Linked DNA regions of Homo sapiens: all the other regions are linked to region 2. The links come from fine-mapping of genetic effects on gene expression. A gene starts in region 2. Each other region holds a variant in brackets. All regions are shown on one strand. Distances are between the middles of the regions. Region 1 has its middle 89 kb from the start of GCNT1. Region 2 holds the start of GCNT1 (glucosaminyl (N-acetyl) transferase 1). Region 3 has its middle 51 kb from the start of GCNT1. Region 4 has its middle 69 kb from the start of GCNT1. Region 5 overlaps GCNT1 (glucosaminyl (N-acetyl) transferase 1).

Evidence for each region. PIP is the estimated chance that this variant, and not a neighbour inherited with it, causes the effect.
Region 1: its variant is fine-mapped to the expression of GCNT1 in whole blood (INTERVAL, PIP 0.96).
Region 3: its variant is fine-mapped to the expression of GCNT1 in whole blood (INTERVAL, PIP above 0.99).
Region 4: its variant is fine-mapped to the expression of GCNT1 in whole blood (INTERVAL, PIP above 0.99).
Region 5: its variant is fine-mapped to the expression of GCNT1 in whole blood (INTERVAL, PIP above 0.99).

Annotation. Positions count from the first base shown.
Region 1 is chr9:76,546,300-76,550,418 of GRCh38, reverse strand. It overlaps the pseudogene PPIAP87. Among named protein-coding and RNA genes, the nearest start is that of GCNT1, 89 kb to the right of the region's middle. The variant C/T (reference allele first, on the strand shown) is at 1,706.
Region 2 is chr9:76,457,201-76,461,319 of GRCh38, reverse strand. It overlaps GCNT1 (glucosaminyl (N-acetyl) transferase 1), which reads right to left and starts at 2,138. Exons shown (of 4, transcript NM_001490.5): 1 at 2,015-2,138; 2 at 1,143-1,260. RefSeq lists silencers at 754-823, 1,814-2,353 and an enhancer at 1,094-1,203.
Region 3 is chr9:76,507,690-76,511,808 of GRCh38, reverse strand. No RefSeq gene overlaps it. Among named protein-coding and RNA genes, the nearest start is that of GCNT1, 51 kb to the right of the region's middle. RefSeq lists an enhancer at 159-659. The variant G/C (reference allele first, on the strand shown) is at 1,650.
Region 4 is chr9:76,526,479-76,530,597 of GRCh38, reverse strand. No RefSeq gene overlaps it. Among named protein-coding and RNA genes, the nearest start is that of GCNT1, 69 kb to the right of the region's middle. The variant G/A (reference allele first, on the strand shown) is at 1,788.
Region 5 is chr9:76,481,855-76,485,973 of GRCh38, reverse strand. The region is part of intron 2 of GCNT1 (glucosaminyl (N-acetyl) transferase 1); the gene reads right to left. Among named protein-coding and RNA genes, the nearest start is that of GCNT1, 25 kb to the right of the region's middle. The variant T/A (reference allele first, on the strand shown) is at 1,689.

The DNA.
Region 1 (4,119 bases), 89 kb before region 2:
GACTCTAGGAGGGCGCTGACCAGGACAAAAGTTAAGTTTGGCTGTGTCGGTCAGATGAAACACAGAGGAGCAGTATATTACTAACAGATTCCAAAGGGAAGAGGGCAGCACGCCTTGCAGGGCCAAAAGAAAGGGGGAAAGCTGTCTGGAACATGCACACTTAACCAGCAGGGGGATAGCAAGAGAGAGAGAAAGAGACCTCTGGGGCAAAGCCTTTATTCTGGTCCAGCATGTTACCCAAGCAGGTTTCCCATGATGAGTTCTAATTGGTGGGTTTATAGCAAGCAGGTACAAGGTCCATGAAGTCACACTGTGACCAAGAGGTGATCACTGTGGCATATCTGGGCAGTCCACCCACGGCGTGGGGGGTCAGTGGGGTAAGTCAAGTAGGTTGCATCTAGCCATCCCATAAAAAGGTGGTCACCAGGAGGCAGTTGTATAAAGCGCGTATCTGGATTGACCTACCTTGAGGAACTGGGAAGAGGTAGAGTTTGGAAGAATTGCAATCTGTGTCAAAGACGTCTAAGCCCTGCTTCTAGTATGAGTGACTCCAACTTATATTGAAAATGAATGCTGAGGCAACATGAAATTAATACAAATTCGGCTTTGCAGACGCCGATGCCTCCCAGAGCCCTCTGCCACCAGCCATAGTCAACCCCATCATGTTCTTCAACATCGCCATCATCAGCGAGCTTTTAAGCAGAATCTCCTTGGAGCTGTTTGCAAAGTTCCAAAGACAGCAGAAACTTTCATGCTCAGAGCACTAGAGAGAAAGGATTTGGTTATAAGGGTTCCTGCTTTCACAGAATTATTCCAGGGTTTATGTGTCAGGCTGGTGACTTCACAAACCATAATGGCACTGGCAGCAAGTCACTCTATGGGGAGAAATTTGATCATGAGAACTTCATTCTGAAGCATACAGGTCCTGGCATCTTGTCCATGGCAAATGTTGGACTCAACACAAATAGCTCTCAGTTTTTCATCTGCACTGCCAAGACTGAGTGGTTGGATGGCAAGCATGTGGTCTTTGGCAAGGTGAAAGAAGGCATGAGTATCATGGAGGCCATGGAGCGCTTTGGGTCCAGGAATGGCAAGACCAGCAAGAAGATCACCATTGCTGACTGTGGACAACTCTAACAAATTTGACTTGTGTTTTATCTTAACCACCAGACCATTCCTTCTGTAGCTCAGGAGAGCACCTTTCCACCCCATTTGCTCATAGTATCCTATAATCTTTGTGTTCTCACTTCAGTTCTTTTGGGTTCCATATTTTCCTTATTTCCTTCCATGCCCAGCTGGATTGCAGACTTAAGTTTATTATTATGAAATAAGAAATAAATAACAACAACAACAACAAATTATAAGAACTTACAGATGGACACTGTGGCTCATGTCTGTAATCCCAGCACTGGGGGAGGCCGAGGGGGGAGGATCATTTGAGGCCAGGAGTTCAAGATTAGCCTGGGCAAAAATAATAAAACTAGCTGGGCATGGTGGCTCATGCCTGTGGTCTTAGCTGCTCAGTAGGCTGAGTTGGGAGGATCACTGAACCCGGGAGAAGTGGAGGCTGCAGTGAACAAAGATCAGGCCACTGCACTCCAGCCTGGGCAACAGAATGAGATACTGTCTCAAAAAGAAAAAAATTCACTACAGAAGATGACTCTATCTTCAGAATTATATCTAAGATCAAAAACATTTTAGGCTA[C/T]GACTTAGAGTAAGAAACAAACTTTGCATGGCAACCTAGCACACACATGCATCTACATAACTTTAGAGAAAATGGAAAAGAAAACTTAATGAAATAATATTCACCTTTGTAATGTGCATTATGCTCTGGTATGGTTCTTCTATTTCATTTTCTAATGATGACTCTGATTCACTGAATTTCATTTCCCAGCCAACTAATGGATCATAAGGCAAAAACACTGGTTTAAACCTGTCATGTCAACACCACTCTTCTTAGCAATTTTTCAGTCTTAAAAGAAAACTAAAAGAGTGAGCTTATGAATTGGAAAAACTCAATATTAACATGTCAATTCTCCCCAAATTGATCTATAGGTTCAACACAGTCTCAAGCAAAATATCAGAAATTTTTTGTATATATGGATAAGCTGATGCTACAAGTTATATGATGGGCAAAGGAAAGAGATTAGAGAAAACAATTTTGCAAAAGAAAAACAGATGATAAATTTATACTTATGACTTCAAGACTTACTGTGATAAGCTGCAGTAATCAAGATAGTTTGATATTGGTGAGACATGAAATCACAAACACAAATCAGTGCAACAGAGTAGAGTCCAGAAGCAGATCCACACAAATCAGCTCTACCCATTTTGACTGAGGGACAAAGGAAATTCAAAGAAAGGATGATCTTTTCAATTGATGGTGCTGAAAAATCAGACATCCATAAGCAAAAACATTGCATTTCTTCCTATGCCTCCTATGTTATAAAAAAAAAAGCTAATTTAAAATGGAGCCCAGATCTAAATGGAAAACTTAGAACTTTTAGAAGAAAACCTTTGTGAGCTTGGGTTAGGAAAGGACTTGTTCAGTTTGACAACCAAAGCACAATCAATGAAAGAAAAAGTGATAAGTTTGACTTCACCAAAATTAAAATCCTGGGCCAGGCACGCCTGGCTCACGCCTGGCTCACGCCTGTAATCTCAGCACTTTGGGAGGCCAAGGCAGGAGGATTGCTTGAGCCCAGGAGTTCGAGATTAGCCTGGGCAACATAGTAAGACCCTGTCTCTATGTTTTTTTTTTTTTTTAATTAAAATCTTTTGCTTCATAAAAGGTAGCTTTAGGCAAATGAAAAGACAATCCACAGGCTATGAAGGATACATGGGCAAAACACATATACAACAAAGAACTCACATCCAGAATATATAAAGAACTTTCAAAACTCAACAGTAAGAAAAGATAAAAGTAAAAACATGGGCAAAACATTTGAACAAGATCTTTATTAAAGAAGGTATATAGATGGCAAATAAGCACATGAAAGGATGCTAAACTCAGTTTGCATCAGGGAAATGCAAATTAAAACCACAGTAATATACCATTACACATCTATTAGAATGGCTGACTTTTAAAAATGATAATATTAAGTGCTGTTGAAGATGCAGAACAATTGTCACTTGTATACAATGCTAGCTCTGTTATAGTGGGTAGCTAGTCAGACATGAGCTGGGCAGGAGAGGGCTCCCCCAACCCCACCAGGAATGTTAGGCAATCATCAGGTGATGGTCAGGTGACTGTTACATTGTTTCTCTAAAATAATAATTGATGCCAGCTAGCGCCAGGGAAAGGTAGTCTCCCAGTAGACAGAAAAAAACTTGCGTGATCAGCAGCTTCCCGATAAGATCTCAGGAGTTGGGCGAGTGGGCTCAAACATGAGCACTAAGCGGCAAAATGGTGGTTTAACTGGTATAAGACCTTCTAGAAGCATTCAACGGGTAAGGGAAGACTACCTCAAGTAAGCATGCATACAACTCCAGTAAATACACTGCACATGTTGTAGCAGGCCACCGTGCATGCAGACAGCCCACCCCAAGAAAGAATCATGCCAACATATAAAACCCCAAGTCAGGCTGGGTGCGGTGGCTCACGCCTGTAATCCCTGCACTTTGGGAGGCCAAGGCAGGCGGATCTCCTCAGGTCAGGAGTTCGAGACCAGCCTGACCAACATGGTAAAACCCTATGTCTACTAAAAAAAATACAAAAATAAGCCGGGCATGGTGGCGGGTGCCTGTAACCCCAGCTGCTCGGGAGACTGAGGCAGGAGAATCACTTGAACCCAGGAGGTGGAGGTTGCAGTGAGCCGAGATGGCACCACTGCACTCCAGCCTAAGCAGCAGAGTGAGACTCCGTCTCAAAAAAAAACAAAAAAAAACCCAAGTCAAAGGTCAAACAGTGCCCTTGATCTCTCAAGTTGCCGGGTTGGCCCTCTTTCAGGTGTACTTTACTTCCTTTAATTTCTCTTGTAAAGCTTTTTAACAAACTTTCACTCCTGCCCTAAAACTTGTCTTGGTCTTCTCTCATTCCTTATGCCTTTTGGGTTGAATTCTTTCTTCTGAGGGGGCAAGAATTGAGGTTGCTGCCGATCCCTAAGGATTTGCTGCCAG
Region 2 (4,119 bases):
CGCCCGGCCCTCTTTGTGTTCTAAAAAGGAAAAAATATGAGCCAATATTTAAAATCAGGCTTTACATTTTTTATTTTTAAGTAAAAGTTCTCAGCTATTCGTGGAAAAAAAAAAAAAAAAAAAAAGCTGCCTACACTGTATGGCTGAATGGGAATTCCTGCATGGATACTCGGTGGAAATGGCCAATATCCACCCAGCCTTAGCAGGTTCCTCTGCAGTCACCTGGGCCCAACCAAGCACTCTTGTGCATTACCTGTTTAGTCCATGTGGATAAAGTGGATTTTGTGATCCCAGTTTTAGGGAAAAACGTTTTTCTTACTGTTAAGCAATTCAATTACAAACGGAAAAGGAGTAACTCCTTAAAAAGTGAGTGGAAGCATTGCTATCATTAATCAAGAATGAACTATAATTAATGAAGGATAGAATCTAGTACAAACTTGGGGCCAAGGCTAAGGAGATCCTTTACAGGGCCAAGTTGAAGGACGGGCAGAGGAGGTGGCAGTGACCGTCAAACCCTCATCATGAAATGGAAAAAATATCAACCTCTCGGCCAATAAAACTTTTTAAAAGTAAATTCATAGTTTGGTATATTGTATTTTAAAATAAAGGAGTTTGCCATTTCTAAGAAATCAGTTTCCCAAAACTACCATTTTAAGGGCCCGAAAAAAATTCCTTTAAGAAAAAGCAGGTATCTACACAGTCTGAGTTTTCCTCCCTGCTAGAACTGAAATCTGTTACGAAAGCCTCCAGCAGGGGGGCCTGCCTGGAATTGCCTAAGCTCCTAGCAGGTAATTTACACTGATCTTTAAAAACTACTAAGCCCTCCTCCTCCCCTCTATAAAACAAACCGGCCTTTCAGAACAGCTCTGGAAGGGGGGCAGAATGCCAGACGAAGAGACAACTTCCAGACCACGTCTCTCACCTCCCACCCATCAAATTCAGCCCACAAAAAGCTGTGGCCGCATTCTCATCTCAAGGCACCACGGCTTTCTTTGAACACCATATATCTTCCCAATTGGCCTCTTGCCCCATTATGTGTAAAAAACCGACTCTCTTTTCTGCAGAAAGAAATAACAAGGCAAAGGGTGTACAGGGCAACGTTTATATGCATCTACAGCATGCCAGGTGCCTACAGAACCTACCTCGGCCTAGGCGGTCCGTGCCCTAGCCGGGATCTGCAGGCGCCCTCATCCACGCTGGGAGACGGGAAGAGGAGAGGGAGGCGTGACAGGCGAGGGTGCCTGTGCTGCGCAGAAAGCGCTGCCAGGAGAAAAGAAGCAGTGAGCAAGGGCTTCTTCCATTTCAAAAACCTAATAACCAAAACTTGGAGGAATCTGCCTGAGATACTTAAAAAAAAGAGGAAAGAGAAACCTAGGAGGGGGTAAAATGCTTTTAAGACGAATCACTTGTTTTCGTAATAGACCCTGCGCGCGAGTTTCCTAGACTGCCGCGAGAAGAAGGAAAGCGAGGGAGCAGGAAAGGAGAGGCTTCGGAGCCCCTAAACTAACGTCTCTTTTCTTATTAGTAATAGTTTGCTCCAGGGTGAGTCATTTATTATCCTAGCGTTGGCCTCTTTATCAGTAAAGTAGGGGTGAAAATGCATCTTAGCCGGGCTGGCGTTAGGATTCAATGAAGTTAAATGAAGTTAAGCCCCTGGCACCCATGGGATGGCAGCGAGTCTGTTCGTTCCCTGCCTATCCACGCCCGCAGCCAACCCCTCCGACATCTAAGCTACACGGACCAGGGGCAAGAGGCCAGAAAGTGACTTTCAGGGGACACGGGGCACCGGCGTCCCAGCCCCACTGAGCGGACGGAAAATGAAGGTGGAAGGAAGAGGCGCCGCTCCATTCCGGTCCCGGGCGCACCCCGGTTCTGCTTCCTCCTCCGCGGGGGAGCCCAGCCCGCCCGGGGCCACGGGGCACTGGCTGAGAGCCGGCTCCCTCCCACCCATCCTTCTCAGCCTTCCCCCACCGCCGGGCGGCCGAGCAGGGGAACACGAGGGAGAGCCGGTTACCTGGAGTGGGCGTCTGACCCCGGAGTCTCAGGAGGATGCCCAGCCGCTCCTGCTCCACCAAGCTCCCGCCCCGCGCCGCGCTCTAGGCGCTCCGGAGCTGCGCCTGCAGCCCTCACACCAGCGTGGCCCGCCCCGGGGCCGCCCCCAGAGGCCCCGCCTTTCTAGGCCCCGCCCACCACGTCCCCGCCTCGCCCACCTGCGCGAGCTCGGGGCTGGGGACTTGCTGCGGACTCGCGGTTCCCGCCTACAGGCGAGGGCGCCCTCTGGGCACTGACGTGGTCTGGGAGTAGCGCTGCGATCCTAGTGCTTCCTCGCTCCTCTTCCTCACTGTGCTCTGATTCTTAAGAGGTGTGTGAGCGGCGTCTTTTTAAACATTTTATGCCTCCCTTCCTCGAAAGCAGGAAACTCGAGAAATGCTGCCTTTTCTGATTTTAAACATGAAAATATGTTACAGAACAACAATAAAATTAAATTCCAAGGTTCTCGATATGTAAAGTTTAGAGATAACCATGTAGGTGTTTTTTTCTCTCCCCTAACGAACCTTGCTTCCTAAATTTAGCATTTAAGAACTCATTACATTCATGTGTATTTCCACATAAAAATTAAGATCAAATTAAACTGTGGAACAATCCACAGTGCTGTGGAAAGTAGGAAAAAACCTTCCCCGCCCTTATAGCACAGATCTTTGTGTCAGTTATAAAAGTTGACACAGTTCTCTTTGTAACAAGGGGAATATTGTGTCTGTGTCTTCTTTCGTTGGATTTTTAGCTCCTAGAAAACAGAACGAGGTCTTATTTGTTTCCATGTTGTTTAAAAAAAATTCTGGCCGGGCGCGGTGGCTCACGCCTGTAATCCCAGCACTTTGGGAGGCCGAGGCGGGCGGATCACCAGGTCAGGAGATCGAGACCATCCTGGCTAACATGGTGAAACCGCGTCTCTACTAAATATACAAAAAATTAGCCAGGCGTGGTGGCGGGCGCCTGTAGTCCCAGCTACTCGGGAGGCTGAGTCAGGAGAATGGCGTGAACCCGGGAGGCGGAGCTTGCAGTGAGCCGAGATCGTGTCACTGCACTCCAGCCTGGGCAACAGAGCGAGACTCCATCTCAAAAAAAAAAAAAAAAAAAAAAAAATCCAACTCAGAGGCCATTAGACTGTGATATGTTTGACACTTGCCTGATTTGTCAACAAAAATTAACATAAGATGATGGTATAGAGGAAGAAAGACTTCCCCTCTACTCTCTGAGGCTTGGATAACTAAGTCTATGAAATAAATTGACTGCAGGTAGATTAACAAGAGAAAAAGTACACAGATTTCGTGTAGGGGGTATCACAGAAAAGAAAAACTAATATTCCCTCTGCCTCCCCCAACAAAAACTGAGATTTTAGGAGCTTGTGTATCCTCTTCATTGGGGAGGGACAATTTAGGGGAGAGGAAATGATTTTGGGAAAAACTCCTGAACTCCTTCAATGGCTAGCTTTGTTTAATATCTCATGAAATTTTTCATGAGCAATTCAAGCATAATTGTTAAGAGCAAGTAGATTAGGTAAATGTAAATGGAATAAAAGTTTATAAACTTTTAAAAATAATTTGTTTTATAAAATTTGTCTACTTAAAAATAGTTTTAAAAATCTTTTTTGGTGACTTGAAATTTCGAACATATTAAATTAAGTAATAGATATTCATTAAATGTCTGAGTCATTTGTAAGTTAAAATACTGACATGTTAATTGCTAAACATAAGTTTAAAGTATAGCCGGGGCTGGGCACAGTGGCTCATGCCTGTAATTCCAGCACTTTGGGAGGCCGAGGTGGGTGGATCACCTGAAGTCAGGAGTTTGAGTCCAGCCTGGCCAACATACCAAAACCCCGTCTCTACTAAAAATACAAAAATTAGCCAGCTGCGGTGGCGTGTGCCTGCAGTCCCAGCTACTCAGGAGGCTGAGGCATGAGAATCGCTTGAACCCGGGAGGTGGAGGTTGCAGTGAGCTGAGATCGTGCCACTGCACTCTGGCCTGCGTGACAAAGCAAGGCTCCATCTCAAAAATAAATAAATTAATTAATTAAAAATAAAATATAGCTGGCTGTTTGCAATGGCTCACGCTTGT
Region 3 (4,119 bases), 50 kb before region 2:
TGGCCAGGATGGTCTCGATCTCTTGACCTGGTGATCTGCCCGCCTTGGCCTCTAAAAGTGCTGGGATTACAGGCGTGAGCCACAGCGCCCAGCCAGCACATCTTGCTTTAAACAAGAAATGCAGGCAAGGCGTGGTGGCTCACGCCTGTAATCCCAGAATTTTGGGAGGCTGAAGCGGGTGGATGGCTTGAGCTCATGAGTTTGAGAGCAGCCTGGGCAGCATGGCGAAACCCCATTTCTATAAAAAAAAAAAAAATACAAAAATTAGCCAAGCATGGTGGCGCATGCCTGTGGTCTGAGCTACTCTAGAGACTGAGGTGGGAGGATTGCTGGAGCCCAGAAAGTCCAGGCTGCAGTGAGCCGTGATCGTGCCACTGCACTCCAGTCTGGGCAATGGAGTGACACCCTGTCTCAAAGAGATGTGCTGCACTCACAGCAGGCCAGGTTCTGGGGAAGAAGGTGGATGGTTAAAATGGTAAAATAGAGATGAATGGATCAGAGAAAAACATTTTTTCAAGCGTTTATTATGGATTCATGCCTTTCTTTGCTCTTTTGTAAATTGGGCCAATTTTTTATAAGTAGTGCCCATTCCCAAGGTTGTTATGGAGTGAAAGGAGGTAATACATGCAAAGTGCTTTGAACATGCAATAAGTAAATGCTCAACAAATGCCAGCTGTTGCCATGATTAGCGCAGTGGGCTTTGAGGAACATACTTAAAGGGGCATTCTCCTTTGAGTGGAGGGGCACGAAAAGCTTTCCTGAAGAGAAAACACATCTTCTTTGCATCAAGTCAATTAAGGGAATTCTAACTGCGCCAGGAAGCGTTTACTAATGAGTCTAATGGCAAAGGAAATAAATTATAAATACCCAATAATGTTTAAGCCAGTGATAGTGGTATCCGTGTTTTGCAGAAATTAAAACAAAACAAAACAAAAAACACCGGTTTCTATATCTTAAAGGTCAATAAACCTTCATATGAAATGCACAAAATTATCTAGTTAAACAAGATCCTCCTCCTGCACCAATACTGCTCATCCAAGTTACTCCCACAGTCATATGTTCGGATGGAGGCTACTGGAGAGTATGAATCTTCTGGAGTCCTCCTGCTGAAGGGGAACATATGTTTCCCACTGGCATGCAGCTCAAGGAAACAGGCCACCCTCACCTAACAAGCAATTAAATCAACATGTATTGGATATCAGAAAATGAAATCCCATAGATACGTTCCAAGGAGCTAGAGGCAAAACTGCTGCCAATCTAATCATCCTCAGCTCTTGTAGTCAGATGGAGAGTGCCAGTGGCCTATAGGATTGGTTATTCAGGCTACTGCTGCAAAAGGTTCTCTTCACTGTGGGTATACAATGGGGCTATCTTACAAGGTTAATCAGAGTATAGGACCTTGACACGGCTAAGCACTAATGGTTACATCTAAAACATGCCTGTCAGTAGGTGAGAGGAGAGAAATCATGGCTCCTTCCTCCCCTAAATAAAGGCTGGGGCTGGGGAGCATAAGACTCCCTAAGGCAAACCATATGTGGAAAAAGCTCCAAATACATATTTGGCAACAATTTTATGGAGCTGGAAGGAGTCATTCTCAAAATATGAAGATGTGACTTCAGGAAATTCTGAATGCTCCTTTCTGTTCAATA[G/C]TTTTCATAAATGAGATCACATTATATGTAGTCTTATTTCTCAATATGGTCTCTCAAGTATCAAGGATATTTTAAAAAACCAAACACCAAAACTGGTAATTTGATACAGAAATTTTCTTTTAATTTGAATCATCTTTATTGAATTATAATTTTTCATATTAGCCATTTCCATTTCTTATTGTACTTCTATGAATTGTTACATCCTTTGTTCATTTTTCTCTTGGAGTCTTCATGTTTAAAAACTATGGGCCGGGCGCGGTGGCTCACGCCTGTAATCCCAGCACTTTGGGAGGCCGAGGCGGGTGGATCATGAGGTCAGGAGATCGAGACCATCCTGGCTAACAAGGTGAAACCCCGTCTCTACTAAAAATACAAAAAATTAGCCGGGCGCGGTGGCGGGCGCCTGTAGTCCCAGCTACTCGGGAGGCTGAGGCAGGAGAATGGCGTGAACCCGGGAGGCGGAGCTTGCAGTGAGCCGAGATTGCGCCACTGCAGTCCGCAGTCCGGCCTGGGCGACAGAGCGAGACTCCGTCTCAAAAAAAAAAAAAAAAAAAACAACTATGTTAGTATGAGGGAGTTGTGGGGAGTGACTATAAAGGGTACAAGGTTTCTTCTTGGGGTGATGAAGAGGTTCTAAAATTGATTATGGGCCAGGCGTGGTGGCTCATGCTTGTAATCCCAGCACTTTGGGAGGCTGAGGTGGGAGAATCGCTTGAGCTCAGGAGTTTGAGACCAGCCTGGGCTACATAGTGAGAACCTGTCTCCATATTTAAAATACAAATAAAAATAAAATGGATTGTGGTAATGGTTATAATAAAAACCACTTAGATATACACTTTAAATGGGTAAACTGTATAAGTGAATTATCTCAATATAACTGGTTTTAAATATTAGCATAAATCATTTCCATATTAAGGTATTAAGCCTCCCTCTTCCAAAATCTGTAGGCAAATGTTCTAATCTCATTTGCCTTTTACTTTCTCATATTCAGAAGATATATATTTTTAAATATATAATCTGCTCCTTAATGAATCTTATTGCTTTTATTTGGAAAATTCAGTCACCCATCCAAAGATAGTCACTAGTATGTTCTTCTAGCTTATTTTCATATTTTTCATCTGGATTTTGGTGTACATTATAAAGCCATAATCTAGTATTCTCCAAAAGTTTACCTTCCTTATGTTCCTAGGATTTTTGGAACATTTTATTTATACTCACATCTATTTCGGGGCTACTACTGCCTTGGTCTAAGGGTTCAAATGTAAACTATTAGTACATTTTCAATATTTTTTAGCTGTGAAATATGGTTTTATATCTAGTATCTTAAGACTTCATGACTTTCCTTTCAAAATATTCCTATTCTTGCACATCTTTCAGATGAAATTTAGGATACTCTCAAGCCATTGAGAACATTAATAGACTTGCATTCAGTTAATTCACAAATAGAAGAAATGTTTAAAATATTTCATTTTAGGGCTGGGAACAGTGGCTCACGCCTGTAATCCCAGCACTTTGGGAGGCCAAGGCGGGCGGATCACCTGAGGTCGGGAGGTTGAGACCAGCCTGACCAACATGGAGAAACCCCGTTTCTACTAAAAATACAAAATTAGCCAGGCATGGTGGCACATGTCTGTAATCCCAGCTACTCCGGAGGCTGAGGCAGGAGAATTGCTTGAACCCAGGAGGCGGAAGTTGTGGTGAGCCGAGATCATGCCATTGCACTTCAGCCCGGGCAACAAGAGTGAAACTCTGTCTCAAAAAAACAAAAAACAAAAAACAAACAAAAAAATCATTTTATCAGCTAGGAGCAGTGTATTTTTCCATCTATACAGGTCTTCTGTTATCTTTGTATAGTTTCTGCACACATGCTCAGTTTGTCTATAAATGTGACAAAGCTTGTTGCCACAACAAATGGTGATATACTACAATTATATCTTAAAGCTACCTTTGTCTATTAACTTTTGGATATCTGGAGGTTTTTGCTAATTTCATATTAATTCTAAGATGAGATTCCCAGGCTTTCTACTTGGACCATTATATCATCTGCAATAATAACAATAGTTTTTTCTTTCCCAATAGTTGTAATTCATTTCTAGTTTGGGTCCTACTGCATTAAAAAAAATTGTATCAATATTCTGATGACAAGCCCTGAAAACATTAAAGCATGTATTAAAAACAATATCTTTCACAAGCAGGCTTATAAAGGATATGTAAAGCTCTCAAGCTTTAGAGAAAAATCTGAAATTCATCAATTTTGCCACTTTCTAGAATGTTTCATCTAATTTAGGGCTAAAGAACACCTCGAAGTGTTTAATAGATCCGGTGTGACAATATCTGGAGAAGGCACTCAATATTGGGGGCATGGGGTCCCTTTTCCCTCAGCTGTGCCCATCACATTCAAACCAACAGCAGGTGATAGCTCCTATTAACCTATGCTACTAACTGGAAAACTGTTCTCTTTCTTCAGTAG
Region 4 (4,119 bases), 69 kb before region 2:
CTGAGTGGGCCCCCTCTACAGACTACAGGATCTCAGCCCACCTTTTAAAGCTTCCCCAGCCATAACTAGAGACCCCTTCCAAGTGCTCAGTACCAAGGCCAATCAGATTTTTTTTTTTTTTTTTTGAGATGGGAGTCTCACTCTGTCACCCAGGCTGGAGTGCAGTAGGTCCATCTCGGCTCACTGCAAGCTCCACCTCCTGGGATCAAGAGATCCTCCTGCCTCAGTCCCCCTAGTAGCTGGGACCACAGGCACACGCCGCCCTGCTCAGCTAATTCTTGTTTTTTTGTTGCTGTTGTTTGTTTTTTTGAGACGGAGTCTTGCTCTGTTGCCAGGCTGGAGTGCAGTGGCGCAATCTTGGCTCACTGCAGCCTCTGCCTCCCAGGTTCAAGTGATTTCCCTGCCTCAGCCTCCCGAGTAACTGGGACTACAGGTGCGTGCCACCACGACCGGCTGATTTTTTTTTTTTAATTGTATTTTAGTAGAGATGGGGTTTCACCATGTTGGTTAGACTGGTCTCGAACTCCTGATCTCAGGTGATCCGCCCACATTGGACTCCCAAACTGCTGGGATTACAGGCGTTAGCCACCGCGCCCAGCCCCAGTCAGATTTTTCTGTGCTGCTCCTTTCCACTGCCAAGAAGCCCTGTTAGGAGATGCCTCGTTAGTATTACTTTAGCTGGTGTCTACTTCAGCCTTTTTATCTAGGTGCTGTTTCCAAACTTTCAGTTCCTCATGGTGCCCACACAGCACTGGAGAACCTTCCATCCCAACCCAGTGTTAAAAGCTGTGCTGCAGGCACCCAGGAAGGGGGAAGCTTCTCCGTCTATAAATCAGGGTAATATGTTTCACTGAAGTCCTGAAACATCTGTGCTTGTACCTGGAGCCTCCCAAAGTCCTTCATGTAAATAGTAACTCCAGTGAATTACTGGTCTCTGAGCCTGGGCTGAGGAACAGACAACATCCTATCTTCCACTCTCCCATTCAATCCTGTCTCTTGTCCCACGGCATCCAAACACTTTTTCCTCCAATGTTCCGTTCTTCCAGGAAAATGTACACATACCACTTTGGTGCTGCCCTACACAAAGCAGATACTTGTTTTTTATTATACACACATGTATAAAGCCAAGTATTTCAAAAACAAGTATCAATTTTCAATTTTTTTTTTAAATATAGAGACAGGGTGTCACTGTGTTGCCCAGGTTGGTCTCCAACTCCTGCGCTCAAGCGATCCTGCCATCTTGGCTTCCCAAAGTATTGGGATTACAGATGTGAGCCATCCCACCTGGCTAATTTTCAAATATTTCAAAAGCAGTTAACATCGATATATAGTATATCTGAAACAAAGCATCATCAATATTGTCAATGCAGTATGTAATTAATATGGCCTCTTTTTACCATTTAAGTTCTGGTAAACAATTTTGATCCATCATATCTAACATAAAATGTGCAAATGATAGTTCTAGAACTATAGTGAGGAGATAACGAAAGGATATTATGTTGGATGGTAAAGCTCAAGTGGTTTTGAGAGGTGACAACGTGCTAGCAGCCCTTGCTCACTCCCGGTGCCTCCTTGGCCTCAGCATCTGCTCTGGCCACACTCCAGGAGCCCTTCAGCCCGCAGCTGTGCTGTGGGGGCCCCTCTCTGGGGCTGGCCGAGGCGGGAGCCGGCTCCCTCTGCTCACAGGGAGGTGTGGAGGCAGAGGCGAGGGCGGCAGCTGGGGCTGTGGCGCTAGTGGGCCAGCACGGGTTCCAGGTGGGCGCGGGCTGGGAGCGGGTCCCACACTC[G/A]GCGCCTGCTGGGCTTGATCCAGGTACGAGCTCCCTCTGGGTTGCCGGAATGCCCGGGGTAGGTGCCCAAAAGTCCTGGCGGCCAGTGCCATTGAGAGGTGAAGCCAGCTGGGCTTTTGGGTTGGGTGGAGACCTGGAGAACTTTTCCCTCTGGCTAAAGGATTGTAAACGCACCAATCAGCACTCTGTGTCTAACTAAAGGTTTGTAAACACACCAATCAGCACTCTGTCAAGACAGACCAATCAACTCTCTGTAAAACGGACCAATCAGCTCTCTGTAAAATGGACCAATCAGCTCTCTGTAAAATGGACCAATCAATAGGATGTGGGTGGGGCCAGATAAGGGAATAAAAGCCACGCCACCTGAGGCAGCAGTGGCTACTTGGTTAACTGTGTCCCCTTCTACTCTGCCAAGGCTTTGTTCTTTGCCTCTTAGAAGTAAATGTTGTTGCTGCTCACCCTTTGGGTCCACGCTGCCTTTATGAGCTGTAACAATGAGCTGTAACACTCAGTGCGAAGGTCTGCAGCTTCACTCCTGAAGCCAGCCAGGGAGACCATGAACCCACGGGGAGGGATGAACAATTCCAGATGGGAGGAATGAACAATTCCAGATGGGAGGAATGAACAATTCCAGATGGGAGGAATGAACAATTCCAGATGGGAGGAACGAACAACTCTGGACGTGCCACCTTTATGAACTGTAACACTCACAGCAAAGGTCTGCAGTTTCACTCCTGAGGCCAGTGAGACCACGAACCCACTGGAAGGAACGAACAACTCCAGATGCGCCGCCCACTCACTGCGAAGGTCTGCAGCTTCACTCCTGAAGTCAGCAAGACCAGCAACCCCCCAGAAGGAAGAAACTCTGGACACATCTGAACATCAGAAGGAACAAACTCGGGACACAACACTTACCGCGAGGGTCCACGGCTCCGTTCTTGAGGTCAGCGAGACCAACAACCCACCAATTCTGGACACATTTTTGCTCCAGGCACCTTCAGAGAAATGGTCAAGAAAGCAGCGTAAAGATCAACTGGAAATGAAAATTTCTGGATATGCTTTTACTTATGAAGAATATAATGGGGGGCCCAGTATAGTGGCTCATGCTTGTAATCCCAGCACTTAGGGAGGCAAAAGTGGGAGAATCACTTGAGCCCAGGAGTTACCTGGGCAGCTTAGCGAGACCTCATGTCTACGAAAATAAAAATTAAAAACTTAGCCACATGTGGTGGTCCCAGGTACTTGGGAGGCTGAGGTAGGAGGATCGCTTGAGCCTGGGAGGTCGAGGCTGTAGTGAGCTATGATTCCCACCACTACACTTAAGCCTGGGTGACAGTGAAATCCCCTCTCTCGAAAAGAATATAACAGCTATCATCACAGCCTGCGAAGTCAGTCACTTTGCCCTGAGGCATGTTCTGTGTTCTGAGGCAAGGATAGGAGGCTGACCCCTCAACCACCTACTTTTCTATTCAGCCACTGAAGCCTTCTGTGGCCTTCCCTGAGACCTGTGAAACAGTTGGGAGACCATTAGTACAGCAGTTCTTAAGCAGGCCAATTTTTTTCCATTTGGAGGCATTTCAAAATATCTAATGATCTTTTAAAAATTTTATTTAAACTGTTGTCTTTTAGTGGGCAAGGTCAAAGAATGCTAAAAGTCTTGCAAGGTAGGGATAGTTGGGCAAAAGAAAGATTTTCCTCTTACCCAAAAATATCAATAACACCACTATTGTGAGGTATCTGTGTAAGAACTGGGGAATTTGATTGAAGGATTTTTTTTTTTTTTTTTTTTTGAGACGGAGCCTTGCTCTGTCACCCAGGTTGGAGTGCACTGGTACGCTCTTGGCTCACTGCAACCTTTGCCTCCCAGGTTCAAGCGATTCTCTTGCCTCAGCCTCCGGAGTAGCTGGGATTACATGCACCTGCCACCACACGTAGCTAATTTCTGTATTTTTAGTAGAGATGGGGTTTTGCTATGATGGCCAGGCTGGTCTCAAAACTCCTGACTTCAGGTGATCCACCTGCCTTGGATCCCAGAGTGCTGGGATTATAGGCATGAGCCCCCGCACCCAGCCTAATTGAAGGAATTTCTTTCTTGCTATTGTGTTTAACTCCTGTATATGTGTTACAGGTATGGAAGGATGATATGTGATATTAGCTGATATGATTTCCTACATTCACTTTTTTGTCCCACGAAAAGGACAGAGATGCCCTCCTTCCAGGTTCCTCATGGCTCAGAAGTAGCATGAGAGAAGATTATATTGGTCTTGAGTGGTGCATGAAAGAGTCAGAAGACCTCACCAGGGATCCTAGACAAGGATAAAAGGATGTGCCT
Region 5 (4,119 bases), 25 kb before region 2:
GATCACTTGAGGTCTGGAGTTCAGGCCAGCCTGGCCGATATGGCGAAACCTCATCTCTACTGAAAATACAAAAATTAACCAGATGTGGTGGCGCACACCTGTAATCCCAGCTACTTGGGAGGCTGAGGCAGGAGAATCACTTGAACCTGGGAGGCGGAGGTTGCAATGAGTGAGACTGAGCCACTGCACTTCAGCCTGGGTGACAGCAGAGTGAGACCTTGTCTCAAAAAAAAAAAAGGAAGAGACAGGATCCAGTAATCAAGGGACCCAATATAAATGAGAGGCAACAGAAATCCTAGGATTACAAAGACAGATCCCAAGATGATGGTTGTGTGGGAGTACTAGGAAGAAACCAGTCCTTAATTAAAGCAAGTAAACAGCTCCAGAAAATATTTGAGAGAAACAGAGAACCCCTGCTGTAAATTAATGGATTTAGAAGAGATTTTGATAACTAAGGTAGAGTTCAGAATTAAATAAGTAAAATGCAGGCCAGGTGCAGGCCAGAATTAAATAAGTAAAATGCAGGCCTCCCAGCACTTTGGGAGGCCGAGGCAAGCTGATCACTTGAGGTCAGGAGTTCAAGACCAGGCTGGCCAACTCGGCAAAACCCTGTCTCTACTAAAAACACAAAAAATTAGCCGGGTGTGGTGGCATGCGCCCATAATCCCAGGTGCTTGGGAGGCTAAGGCAGGATAATCACTTGAACCTGGGAGGTGGAGGTTGAAGTGAGCCGAGATAGCACCACTGCACTCCAGCCTGGGTGACGGAGTGAGACTCCATCTCCAAAAAACATAAAAGTACATATAATAAACAAACAATATGAAAAAATGCCATTGAGTACAAGTGAGTAAAATATGCCAACAAGTATGTACAATAAAAGAAATCATGGTCGGGCGCGGCGGCTCACGCCAGTAATCCCAGCACTTTGGGAGGCCAAGGTGGGCGGATCATGAGGTCTGGAGTTTGAGACAAGCCTGGCCAACATGGTGAAACCCCGTGTTTACTAAAAATACAAAAATTAGCTGGGTGTGGTGGCACGAGTCTGTAGTCCCAGCTACTCTGGAGGCTGAGGCAGGAGAATCACTTGAATCTGGGAGGCGGAGGTTGCAGTGACCCAAAATGGTGCCACTGCACTCCAGCCTGGGTAACAGAGTGAGATTCCATCTCAGAAAAAAAAAAAAAAAAAAGCAATCATGGTATGCTATGCTCAGTTTATACATGGCTATAGTAATATAAACATTGAGTTGTGGTCAAACAAAAAGCATGACAATATACAGAGGGTCTCAAAACTATTTTCATAATAATACTAGGCCATTCTGCACCCTTTTCACTCCCTCTGTGTTATATACGGCGCAGTTTTCCAGGGTCTACATGATGTGTTTGTTTTCAACAGAATAAGTGCAGAAGTATCAGAATTCAGGTATTTTCTATTAAGTCAAACAGTAAAAGAGATTTGCAAAAATACAAAAACACTGTTATTCTTCCAATTTTTCTGAAAAGATTTTCACAAGAAATTACTTATGTTAAAATAAAGGGCTTATCATTGTTATTTTCACAGAAGTAATACTTAAGTTTTTTGCTTTCTCTCTCTTTTTTTTTTTTTTAAGACAGGGTCTCAATCCATCACCCAGTCTGTAGTACAATGTCATTATCTTGGCTCACTGCAGGCTCAAACTCCTGGGGATCCT[T/A]CCACCTTAGCCTCTCAAGTAGCTGCAACCACAGGTGCACCTGGCTGCTTATTTTTGTAGAGATAGGGTCTCACTATGATGCCCAAGCTGGACTTAAACTTGATCTTGAATTCCTGGCCTCAAGCAAGCCTCCTGCCTTGGCCTCCCAAAGTGCTAGGATTACAGGCGTGAGCCACCATGTCCAGCCTCAGTTTTACTTTCTGATAGAATATATACCAATAGATATAACCCACATAAACAAAAGCTCTTTGTGATCCTCAGTGATTTTTTTAAAGTATAAACAGTGCTGAAATAAAAAAGTTTTCAGGCCAGGCATGGTGGCACACACTTACGATCCCAGCTACTTGGAAGGTTGAGGCGGGAAGAACACTTGAGCCCAAGAGTTCCAGATCAGCCTGGAACAACCTGAATCAACATAGCAAGACCCCATCTCATATTTAAAAATACACACACACGACAAAAAGTTTTTCAGAATCATTGACTTTGGGGATGAGAGACAGCCAGGAAATGAGTGCAAGTGTGGTGGAGGGTTTTGGTTGAAAGAGAATTAAACCCTCCTTAATGGTCAGGTGTGGTGGCTTGTGCCTGTTATCGTAGCACTTTGGGAGGCTGAGGTTGGAAGATCACTTGAGCCCAAGAGTTTGAGACTAGCCTAAGTAAAATGGTGAGATACCATCTCTACAAAAACAAGAAAAATTTAAAAATTAGCTGGGTGTGGTGGTGCACGCCTGTAGACCCAGCTACTCAGAAGGCTGAGATGGGAGGATCACTTGAGCCCAGGAGTTCGAGGCTGCGGTGAGCTATGATTGCACCACTGCACTCTAGACTGGGTGATAGAGAAAGACCCTGTCTCTATTAAAACAAAAAACAATAAAAAAAAAACCCCTCCTTAATAGTAGAAAGAACTTAAAGCTGAATAATTTAGAAACCATATAAGCATTATTATTTAGAGATATGAAAATACACACCTAAAGAAATCTGTAAAAAGTTGAAAATGGTTAACTTCAGGGCTATGCAGTAGAGAATGTTAGCTAGTAGTCACATGCAACTACTGAGCACTTGAAATGAGGCTAGTCTCAACAAATACTTTTTTAAAATTTTAATTATTTACATTTTAAAACTTGAAGCAGTATTAAATGTCTTTCCCTTAAACACATTACTGTTTCGGTAGGACTATATTTCACTTTAATGACATCATGTAAGATACTATTATTACATTGTAATACAAATATTAGACACATGTATCATTTCAATATTTCACTTTTTTATACTGTTTACATATTAACATTATAAAATTTTGATATACTAGATTAAAGATAATATACTGTTAATTTGGCCAGATGCAGTGGCTCACACCTATAATCCCAGCACCTTGGGAAGCTGAGGCAGGAGGATCACTTGAGTCCAGGAGTTTGAGACCAGCCTGGGCAACACAGTGAGACTCCCATCTCTACCAAAAAAAAAAAAAAAAAAATTAGCCCGGTGTGGTGGCGCATGCCTGTAGTCTCAGCTACCCAGGAGGCTGAGGTGGGAGGATCACCTGAACCCAGGAGATTGAGGCTGCAATGAGCCATGATCACACCACTGCACTCCAGCCTGGGTAAGAGAGCAAGACCCTGTCTCAAAAGGATAAAAAAAGATTTTACCAGTTCTTTTTTTTTTGAGATGGAGTCTCCCTCTGTTGCCCAGGCTGAAGTGCAGTGGTGCAATCTTGGCTCACTGCAAGCTCTGCCTCCTGGGTTCACGCCATTCTCCTGCCTCAGCCTCCTGAGTAGCTGGGACTACAGGCGCCTGCCACCACGCCCGGCTAATTTTTTTTTGTATTTTTAGTAGAGACAGGGTTTCACCGTGTTAGCCAGGATGGTCTCGATCTCCTGACCTCGTGATCCGCCCGCCTCAGCCTCCCAAAGTGCTGGGATCACAGGCATGGAGCCACCACGCCCAGCCCTGATTCTTTTTTTTTTAATGCTGCTACTAGAAAATTTTATTTCTCACATTATATTTCTAATGGACAATGGAGTTTTAGGGAGTAGGAGATTTGGGGGGCCATTGGGAGAAGCATGCTGTTTTTCGTAAGTACAACTCTTTGTTGGGAGGCAATTCGCCATGGGTGGCTTGCATTTCTGTACATCTTGCAAGTGAGGCACTGTCTTTTTGTTCCAGATAATTTTTTCAAGGCTATTTTTATAGCAAACAGCCTAGAAAGACAGAGATGGTGTTTCCCTCCCTAGCAAAGGGCAAACCTTCTTACTGACAATATAATAAAGACAATGTTACCTGGGGCAAAGCACAGCATGCTTACTGCCCACTATAAAAGATTTGGCTTCTCTAAGCTCAGGGTTTCTTTCCCATAATGCAACCCACTGTTTGTAGTTATCACTTGGCCCTCTTCATACTGCCCTGTGGGAATTAAGGCTCTAGCAACCTAAAA